Linked DNA regions of Homo sapiens. The protein of the gene in region 3 purifies or fractionates together with the protein of the main gene of each other region. This does not show direct contact. Each region holds a gene or a part of one and is shown on either strand. Other genes may lie near its edges.

The links.
Region 1: the proteins of FYB1 (region 3) and DOCK2 purify together in Homo sapiens (tandem affinity purification; one study listed by IntAct). This does not show direct contact.
Region 2: the proteins of FYB1 (region 3) and ARHGEF2 purify together in Homo sapiens (tandem affinity purification; one study listed by IntAct). This does not show direct contact.

The regions. Positions count from the first base shown.
Region 1 is NC_000005.10:169,713,709-169,717,361, reverse strand, and holds part of DOCK2 (dedicator of cytokinesis protein 2), read right to left. Parts: intron 3,335-3,653; coding exon 3,151-3,334; intron 3,003-3,150; coding exon 2,905-3,002; intron 1,150-2,904; coding exon 1,060-1,149; intron 1-1,059. UniProt on the Homo sapiens protein: Involved in cytoskeletal rearrangements required for lymphocyte migration in response of chemokines. Activates RAC1 and RAC2, but not CDC42, by functioning as a guanine nucleotide exchange factor (GEF), which exchanges bound GDP for free GTP.
Region 2 is NC_000001.11:155,961,548-155,965,200, reverse strand, and holds part of ARHGEF2 (rho guanine nucleotide exchange factor 2), read left to right. Parts: intron 1-69; coding exon 70-213; intron 214-2,017; coding exon 2,018-2,268; intron 2,269-2,482; coding exon 2,483-2,608; intron 2,609-2,978; coding exon 2,979-3,096; intron 3,097-3,291; coding exon 3,292-3,540; intron 3,541-3,653. UniProt on the Homo sapiens protein: Activates Rho-GTPases by promoting the exchange of GDP for GTP.
Region 3 is NC_000005.10:39,198,923-39,202,575, forward strand, and holds part of FYB1 (FYN-binding protein 1), read right to left. Parts: coding exon 2,904-3,653; intron 1-2,903. UniProt on the Homo sapiens protein: Acts as an adapter protein of the FYN and LCP2 signaling cascades in T-cells. May play a role in linking T-cell signaling to remodeling of the actin cytoskeleton. Modulates the expression of IL2. Involved in platelet activation.

The DNA.
Region 1 (3,653 bases), about 130 Mb from region 3:
GTATTTTCAGGGCAAACCCAGGGCAGGAAGCCATCTTTACCTGGCATAATTCAACCCCCATTAAAATCCTTTGCCCAGGAATTAGCTCACTAATACATAATGAGTTCTCTTTATTAAGGTAGCATCTTCCCAAAGAAAATGTTTCATGAAGTGTGCTGTGGGGTGTTATAAGATGAAAAGGATTTCATGGTCAAATAGGTTTTGAGAAATGTCAGGTTATCATTATTAGACTTTCTTATTGCAAAACTTTTTAGAATCTTTAATATACTTATGTACATTGTGAATCTCTAAAAGGGTCATGCAACATTCAACACTTCCCTAAATTAATTAATCAAAGTATATATTTGTCATGAAACATCTTTTCTGAGAGCTAGCATTCTAGGGTACTCTCTGGGGAAGCACTTGATTAAGCCACAGTTGTCTCTCAGTAACCTCTTTAAAAATGCAAATATCCATGACACAAGGGGTTAACACTTAAAAACTTTGTTGGGCACTGATTCCCTAATGCAGATGTTTCTTGTGTTTATTTTGACATAACACTGAGAAAATCTGAGTCGAGATAGGGAGAGGACAAAAAGACCATAGGGGAGGACTAAAAGAAGGAAGATCTGGATGGTACAGCATCATGAAAAGTTCTGGGTGGGTAGGAGAAATGTAATGATTAGTGAGTTGGAGGAAATGGGGAGAAGAAGGTGAAAGGAAAGCTAAGAAACATTTTTGGTGCTTTACAACCTAGCCAGGGACTAGCTCCCAACATTCATAGAAAGCAGAAGCAATCATTCACAATATCCAGCCTCATGTACCTTCAGCCAGTGTCAATCTGACATCAGCATTTAAAATTCCCCTTTCACCCACAATGCCTCATGCTTTCAAATGAACTGGCAAGAAGCAAAAGGAAATAGCAGCTCATTATTGGTCTTGTTGCCAAACATTACAACACCTCCAAAGAATTCATGAAAAAGGCCATGAGGGCCATGAGGGCCATGAGTTCTCAGTATTTTCACAGTAAGACATACATTAATGCCTGTTGTCACTAGACACTTTTCCCCTCTCTCTTACCAAGGCATCAAAGACGAGGATGTCATATTCATCACTTTGAGAATGCTCCATCATGATGTTGAAGAGGGCATCCAGAGTATCCTGGAGAAACTGGAAGAAATAACAAAGGTTGCACTACTTCAGAAACAAGACAAAGTACAGGTGAACCAGCAATCCCACTCCTAACTATCTATAAGAGAATGAGAGCACACATCCACCACATGTCATGCTCAAAACGTCTAGAGTAGTTTTACTCACGAGAGCCAGAAGTTGGAGGAACCCAACTGCCCATCAACAGCAGAATGGATGCACAGATGGTGGCATGTTCACACTAGAGAATACTACACAGCTGGACTAAAGTGCAAACTACTTCCACAGGCAGAAATGAGGATGATTCTCACAAGCATTATATGCAGTAAAATACATCAGGCACAGAAAGTACACTCTTCACTATTCCATTCTTATGAAATTTGAGAGTAGGCAAAAACCCATCTACAATGATGGTTGTCAGGACAGTGATTACCCCGGGGGACTACTGGCTGAGAAGGGGTATGAGGGAATCTACTATAATGCTAAAAGTGGTCTGTATCCTCTTCTGGGTGGTGAGTACACATGGTGTTTACGTGTGTAAAAATCCATTATGCTATACTCTTAAGATAACTGCTCTGTATCTATTTCATCATATGTATATCATATTTAAATAACAAACTTTTTTAAAAAAAAAAAAAGAAAAAAGAATGCAAGAGGAAGACAACAAAAGCCTCATCTCTTCCATGACTTCTCCAAGCTACCAAAAGGCTATAGACTTTATTAAAGTGGTGTCTTGGGGAGTTACTCTGCCATTGCTGAACGAGGTAGATGGGTCAGTGGTATACATTTACGGCATCTGGAAATTCTGCCACTGCTTCTCCAGGTAGAGGCAATTAAATAAAACTTGATTTTCCTCCCTCCTAAGGGATGGGTCAATATTTCCTATAATCCCTCAAAACACAGAGCTACCATATAAAGATGTTTAATCTCAGAATTTCTAGCTGTATCAAGGAAACAAGATCTCCAGGACCATTGGGAAACACTTGTCCCAATTCATAAGGCTGGAGAGAAGGGTTGCTTTAATTAGATTTGCACTTCAGACGCTTTCTATTCTCCACTACCATGTGGATGCAATAATACATCTGACATTTGCATTGTTTTCTGCTTATTTCACTTAAAATGTAAGCCCTGATGTCTTTCCCTTTCCCGTCTTTAATACATAATGCTCTCCAAGCAGCAGAAACCAAGAATACTTTTTATTTCTAACAATGATCTGTGGGTAGTACTAACAGATCATACTACTATATATATATGTATATATACATATGCACACATATATATGCTCACACACATACATACATATATATGCATATACATATATATCAACATATGACAACAAAAATAATAATTACCATTTATTGAACTTTGTTTTATATGCTTTGGTTTAATTGTTGTGTACTATGTGTAAGAGACTGTTGAGTAAGTTTTAAATATTATCACCTTGAATGCTCATAACAGCCCTGAGAACTATGTCACTTTTATATTATCACATAAAGTTGGCATGTGGGAGAGCTGGGATTTACACCCAGGCTCATCTATTTCCAGAGATTGAGCATAACCATTGTTTTCTGGCACCCAACATTCAGTGCCATTGAACCAAGTCACTCCCCTGGATTTCCCAATAAAGATTCCTCAAGGCAACTCGGGAGAGTGTATCCTACTGTTGGAAGAAAAGTTTCCCCATGTCCTTCAATACCTTGTTTTTCCCCTGAAGCCACCCACATGGAGAGTTCTGTCACTAGTGTAAGAATACAATCAAAATGAAGCCCCACTGACCTTCACCACTTCCTCTCCATCCACAATCTTCAACTTTTCTAAATTCTCCTGTAGCAGTTGAGGCTTCATACGCCACTTCAGCAAACCCAGCAAGCCCACTAAAATAGAGTCCAGACATTCAGAAGTATCATTACTGGCCTAACTGTCCATATCAGGACCTCCTTGGGTCTGCAAGCACATACACACATGTACACACACACGGACACACACACTCCCCACAGACACAACTCTTGATGACCCGATTACCATTCTGAGTGAGCTTTGTGGAGCACACCAGGGTGGAAATGGAGAACACATCCCGGGAGCTGACAGAAAGCCCCCCAACACTGCTGGAGCTCCTGCTCAGCGTGGCCCCCTTGTTTTCCACATGGTGTCGATAAGAAGGAAGGGTCAGGTATGCGCTGGCATCCTCCATCTTCTTGCTGTCCCCCTGGAAACAACACTTGGTTACTGCCCCAAGCCAAGGCTCCATGCCCAATGCCACACAGAGCCTGCAGCAGACAAATTAGACACTGTGAAGTGGGGAGAGTCATAAAGAGTGAAGAAAATCATCAGAGAAGCAATAGACATTGGCTGGTGAGGCAGGACTGTTTTTCCACAATACAGGTAAGAATTCAAAGACACATTAATAGAAAGGGGGTTGATCCACCAGGTGAAAGCTCTGTGAACCTCATTAATGGCAAAATAAAAACGGAATTGAAAATTCCCAGACAGTACATTTTAATTCATCCTTTTTTTGAGACCATAAT
Region 2 (3,653 bases), on a different chromosome or scaffold from region 3:
TAGAGAAGGGCCAGGGACCCAGGGAAGGGAACTCAAGACCTCTGAGTTGCTTGCCCTGCTAATGTCCAGCAGAGGTAATCTACAGTGAGCTGATGAGTGACTTTGAGATGGATGAGAAGGACTTTGCAGCTGACTCTTGGAGTCTTGCTGTGGACAGCAGCTTCCTGCAGCAGCATAAAAAGGAGGTGATGAAGCAGCAAGATGTCATCTATGGTAAGCCAAGACCACCCTAGTCTTCCTCTTCCTTCACCAGGTCCTGTTTATCTACTTCCTTCTTTATTTTTCTTTTTCTTTTTTTTTTTTTTTTTGAGATGGAGTCTCACTCTCTCAACCAGGCTGAAGTGCAGTGGCATGATCTCGGCTCACTGCAGCCTCCACCTCCCAGGTTCAAGCGATTCTCATTACAGGCGCCTGCCACCATGCTGGCTAAGTTTTGCATTTTTAGTAGAGACGGGGTTTCACCATGTTAGCCAGGCTGGTTTCAAACTCCTGACCTCAGGTGATCTGCCCGCCTCAGCCTCCCAAAGTGCTGGGATTACAGGCGTGAGCCACCGTACCCGGCTGTGTCCTTCTTTCTACCAGCCCCTACCTCTCAAAACCCTTTCCCTCTTGGCCTACAAGACCCTGCCTGGTATCCCACAGGTTGCCCACTAGGTCCCTACCTCTTGATGCTGTTGGTCTCCAACACCCTCTCTTTATCCCTTCTTTATCTCTGTCTTCAGTCTTTACTCTGTGCTTGTTCCACGCTTAACACCGTGCTGGAGACTGTGGGAAGCCTCGACATGTAGAAGACATATGGTTCTTACCCTAAAATAGCTCACAGCTTGAGATGATAAGGTGTAAAGATAAAAAATGGAACTGGGCGTGGTGGCTCATGCCTATAATCTCAGCGATTTGGGAGGCCGAGGTGGGAGGATCACTTGACGCCAGGATTTTGAGACCAACCTAGGCAACAAAGCAAGACCTCTGTCTCTAAAAAAAAAATATATATATATATATATGTATATATATATATATATATATATATATATATTTTTTTTTTTTTTTTTTTTTTTTGAAGCAGAGTCTTGCTCTGTCGCCCATGCTGGAGTGCACTGGCGCTATCTCGGCTCACTGCAACCTCCGCCTCCCAGGTTCAAGCAATTCTCCTGCCTCAGCCTCCCAAGTAGCTGGGATTACAGGCGCCTACAACTACACCCGGCTAATTTTTGCATTTTTAGTAGAGACAGGGTTTCATCATGTTGGCCAAGCTGGTCTCGAACACCTGACCTCAGGTGATGCACCCGCCTCGGCCTCCCAAAGTGCTGGGATTATAGGCGTGAGCCACCGTGCCCAGCCGTCTTTAAAAAATATTTTAAAAAACTAGTCAGGTGTGGTGGCATGTGCCTATAGTCCCAGCTACTTGGGAGGCTGAGACAGGAGGATCGCTTGAGCCCAGAAGTTCGAGGCTGCAGTGAGTTATCATTGTGCCACTACACTCCAGCCTGGGCACCAGAGTAAGACCTCATTTCTGGAAAAAAAAAAATAATAATAAAATTTTTGAAAGATAAAAATGAGGGCCGGGTGTGGTGGCTCATGCCTGTAATCCCAGCACTTTGGGAGGCCGAGGTGGGGAGATCACGAGGTCAGGATTTCGAGACCAGCCTGACCAATATGAAGAAACCCCATCTCTACTAAAAATACAAAAATTAGCCGGGCCTGGTGGTGCGTGCCTGTAATCCCAGCTACTCAGGAGGCTGAGGCAGGACAACTGCTCGAACCTAGGAGGTGGAGGTTGCAGTGAGCTGAGATCGCGCCATTGCACTCCAGCCTGGGCAATACAGTGAGACTCTGTCTCAAAAAAAAAAAAAAAAAAAGATAAAAATGATTAGAAAAGTATCTAAGATCATAATAATGCAGAATATTAACCTGGAATGGACCTTGAAAACCTCACGTGAACTGTGAGGTCCTTATCCTAGGGCCCCACGAGTTTTAGCCAAGCCAGGGTAGAGGCCAAATGTCCCAATGTCCCCCACAGAGCTAATCCAGACAGAGCTGCACCATGTGAGGACACTGAAGATCATGACCCGCCTCTTCCGCACGGGGATGCTGGAAGAGCTACACTTGGAGCCAGGAGTGGTCCAGGGCCTGTTCCCCTGCGTGGACGAGCTCAGTGACATCCATACACGCTTCCTCAGCCAGCTATTAGAACGCCGACGCCAGGCCCTGTGCCCTGGCAGCACCCGGAACTTTGTCATCCATCGCTTGGGTGATCTGCTCATCAGCCAGGTGGGAAAAGGCAGGACCCCTGGGTGACATTCATGGAAGGAGGTGTGACTGGGTTGGGCATTTCTTGGGTCCAAATTCTAGGGGTTGGAGGGGAGCCAGGGAGAGCTGGAGAAACAGGAAGCCAGCCTGTTTGGCAGGAGGCCAGAGGTGTGTCCAGTGGGTAAAGTGTGGCTTTGGGGGAATGCTGACCTAACCTTACTCGACCAACTTCTAGTTCTCAGGTCCTAGTGCGGAGCAGATGTGTAAGACCTACTCGGAGTTCTGCAGCCGCCACAGCAAGGCCTTAAAGCTCTATAAGGAGCTGTACGCCCGAGACAAACGCTTCCAGCAATTCATCCGGGTGAGCGGACCTCTCCAGATCCCATGCTCATGGCCCAAACCCACCCTCCCCAACTCATGGGGGTAGTGCCTGTGAGCTGCACCCACATGGAGGTCAGGCATTCGCCACCCGTGCAGACCATCCATACACAGATCCTGTCAGCAGTAACCCCTCAGAATGCTAGAGCACGTTGTGGTAGTTTCCCAAGTACTTTTTGCTCCTTCAGTTGGTCCTCACAACAAACCTGTGGCGTTGTTATCCCCATTTTCCAGATATGTCACCTAGGCAAGCATGAGGTAAATGGCCACGCCAGGGCCAGCACCAGAGCTCAGGCCCCAGGCCTTTCTGTTGCCCTCCCCTCTGGCCCTGAGCCCTGCCTCCTCCCTTGTAGAAAGTGACCCGCCCCGCCGTGCTCAAGCGGCACGGGGTACAGGAGTGCATCCTGCTGGTGACTCAGCGCATCACCAAGTACCCGTTACTCATCAGCCGCATCCTGCAGCATTCCCACGGTGAGTAGGCAGGCCCAGGAGAGGGCCACTGGGAGACGGCCACCTGGGGTGAGGAAAGGCTCGGTATGACCACAGGAAGGGTGGGGTCGGGTGTGAAACCCTGGGCAGCCTCTAAAGGTGGAATCAAGACACGATGGGAACTGGGGTGTGAGTGAAACTGGTTGAGCCGTTCCCCATGCCAACCCCCGGTGCCAGGGATCGAGGAGGAGCGCCAGGACCTGACCACAGCACTGGGGCTAGTGAAGGAGCTGCTGTCCAATGTGGACGAGGGTATTTATCAGCTGGAGAAAGGGGCCCGTCTGCAGGAGATCTACAACCGCATGGACCCTCGGGCCCAAACCCCAGTGCCTGGCAAGGGCCCCTTTGGCCGAGAGGAACTTCTGAGGCGCAAACTCATCCACGATGGCTGCCTGCTCTGGAAGACAGCGACGGGGCGCTTCAAAGGTCAGACCTGCTCGGCAGACTAGGCAGGAATTCAAAGTCAGATGGAGAGTGGGAGATGCCTGCAGGTCTTAGAATCAACCTCTCTTGGCCGGGTGCAGTGGCTCAACGCCTGT
Region 3 (3,653 bases):
ATGGAGAAAGTATTAAACTTGCAATCTGAAGACTTGGATTTTAGCCTCAGATATATGATTTGGTTATGTCACATCTCAACACTCATTTGTGAAATGGGGGCGATAATTACACTTAATAAAGAATTTTCCCATCTAAAGACTGTACGTACAATATACCACATGTTTATGTATACGTATATGTATATTATTATTTAATTATTTAATAATTATTTATTTTCTACTTACATACTCCAGAATTATAAAAAATAGAATTTCAGAATTTTAAAAAATTTTGCTACAACAGAAATTTAATTCTTTTCTTTATATTGCTTATCCAGTTATATAAAATGAACATATACTTTCTAATTCTGATATATTTTAACCTTCCTAAATGAAATGGTAAATTACTTAGTATTTCTAGCATTGTTTAAGAAAAATAGCAGTGGCAGGATCAAGAGTCAGCAGACCTGACTTAAAAAACTTTGTGTTCAGAAAATAAATGCTTACTTTATGACACATACACGAGTTTATTTTCTGCAGTATTGTTGCAAAAGAACGCTTTTGGAAACAACACAAATTGTTAAATTGATTAAGCTTGTCACCCATTTACTGAAGTATTATGCAACTCTAGAGAATAATCAGTTACTCTTTATTAAAATGTGGAAAGATATACAGGATTTATTTATTTTAAAAATACAAGGATCAGAGCATTGCACATAATATTCTACTTCATGAGTAAAAAGCCGGGGTGGGGGGTAGTATTTATGTTCATATTTGCTTCTGTGAACATAAAGAAACTTCAGATGGACATATAAGAAATTAAGAAGAGTGGTTTCTATGGGGTAGGGGCTGGAAAGACCCAGAAAGTGGCAGACAAGGGTTAAAGGTAGCTTCACTGTACACCATTTTACACTTACTGCTTTTTCAGTCAGAATGTAATTTCTACTTAAAAGATAAAAGAATTCAAATGCTTTTTAAAAAGGTGAATGCTTTAAAGGGGTATTATTCAGAGTTTAAAGTTATGAATCAGATTGCTTAATCCAGATATCAAATGAGGTCAATCTAGATTAAGAGGGATTGAGTTTTGATTTGTGGAAGAGGTGAATGAATAGAGAACAGGATACATTTTGGAGCATAATACATCTCAAGGCATCAGATGTTGAGGGGGTTACACTGATGACAGGATTTAAAATGTGAACTGTGGCATGGGCTACTGACAGTGAGGAAGCATTCAGGAGCAGGGGAGGGTTGCAAAGGAGAGGAGAAGGAGAACAAGGATAAACTCCGTCTGCTCTGCAGTTCTGCCTGGGTCCCTTGTAGCTTTACTTCACTAAAAATCAGACCTTGTCAGGCCTTCAGAGTCAGAAAGAGGACTTGGTTAGCATTTGTGGCAACTCACTGAAAAGCGTGACACCGGGCAACATGTGTTACCACCATGCTCTGCCACCACCCACACTGGAGCGGGAGTGAAACAAAGATGGAAGAAAGTTCCCAGGGATTTCTGCCTAACATCAGAACTCCTTCCCTGGTGTGAAGTCACAGCCATAAAATGGAGGTCATAATACTAAATTTTTTATCCGAGGTGAAGAAATAAGAGAAATAAGGGACCTTTTAGAAAGTCTCACAAAAATAATAGTTCTGAATTATGACCTGGTAATGAAACAAGATGACAGATGAGGAGGAGATGCAATGTGAAACAAGGATGAACCTTTCTGGAAGACAGATGGTCATGGGATCATTCCAAACTTGCTTTCTGTGTGTTTGAATTAGCAGAGGACTTGATCACTAAGCTGTTTACGAACAAGGAGAATACTGAACTCAGGAAGATAACATATCGCAAGATGTTTCTACAGTGCAAAAACGAAAAACAACCTTTAGGCTTAGAATTGCTTTAACTAGACCATACTTCGGTAAGGAGAAAGATGCGACTACAAGTAGTGTGGTCACCTGTAGGCATCTTGTTTCCCCCTCACAATAAACAACAGTTGCACATCATTTACCTAAAATATTAATCATCTCAGGCATGTGTGAGCTTCTTACATGCAGTCACTCAGTACCACATCCAAGAGAATTGCAGTGATATCTCTGGTAGAAATTTAAACTATTTACCCGAAAGGAGAGTAAAGTACTCCTTTGTCTGGCTCATTTTCCTAACTATATATTACTTTATGAATCATAAAAGTTCAGAAAACTTTATACTGAGAAATGGAAAATAGCTAAAATGTGAAACACAAAGTACCATTTCATGAGTACTGCTCCTTTCTCATTTGAATACTGGGCTTAGGAAACATGATGAATTGTGTGGATATTTGCAGTCACTTAAAGGAGGGCTTGTCATCTCTGTACTATTGACATTATGGCCTGAATAATTCTTTGTTGTGGGACTGTCCTGGCCATTGTAGGATGTTCAATAGCATCCCTAGCTTCTACTCACTAGAGGCCAGTAGCACCCTCCAGTTGTGGCAATCAAAAATGCCTCCATACATTGCCAAATGTCCCCTGGGGGTCAAAATTGTTCCCTTTGGGAACTGCTGACCTACAGGATAGCTCATTTTCTGTCTAACTCCTCTGTGTTGATAGGGGTAACATACCTCAGTCTCATTCAACAGAAATGAAACCCAACAAAGGAAGTAAATACAATGGTTATCATTAAGCAAAACCACGTATCAATGAAGTGGATGCATTCCCTCTCCCTTCCCCCAACAAAACCCCAGCTGACCAAGGCATTTTCTCACAGAATGAAGACTTCCTACTTTCCCAGACCTCCCACATGAAAGAAAAAAACAAGACAAAGAAAATTCATTATACACATATGAGTACCAGATATAGAGAATCATTCCTTGTTACAAAACTTTCCCCAGAAGCTAAAACATTCTCTGCCTTGGAGTAAACCATACTGAATAGCAAACGAGAAAAGAACTCACTGTTTCCAGAAGAGGTTTTGTGGAATTTCGTCAGGTCAACATTTGGTGGTCTGTTGGGTTTTGGTGGAGGTGGACCCAAGGTAAACAAGGGAGGCAATGGCTTCTGTTTCGGGGTGGCTGAATTCTTGTCTCCCTTTTCCTTTTCCTGACTTTGGCCCCATGGCCCCCCCACTGTCAGCTTAGAAGGGGCCTTAGGGAACCTGGCAGGAGGAGTCCCTGAGGCCAACTCTTCCTGATTTATTTTGCTCTGGAAGGTGTTCTTAGCAGCATCTATCTTCCTATCTTCCTTTTTTTCTTCACCATTTTTGGAGAGACCTGGGCCTCCCCTGCTCGCAGCAGGTTTCAAAACCACTCCAGGAAAGGGCAAACTTGAAATCTCCCCTGCATGGTCTTTATTTTCTGAGTCTTCCCTTGCTGGTTTTAAAGGGCCGCTTTTGGACCTGACTCCCAGGGGAGCTGGGGACCCTTTTGATGAAGACACATTCTTCATGGGGCTTTCGTCTTCATGGGAGTTCTCGGTACTTAGGGGCGGCTTCTGGCCAAAGGCGGGTTTGGGGAAGAGGGGCTTGGGTTCAAGATCTTGTGATGCTGACATAAATTTCCCTTTAACCCCAGTCAATTTGGGAAACGCTTGCTTCTGTTCATTTTCTGAGGTTGGAGGAGTAGGCCCAGATTTCGGGCCTAGTGGCTTTAAGTCATGGTCTTGGTTTACACTGTGAAGAGATGGCTTGTTTCCAGGAGGCCAGGGAA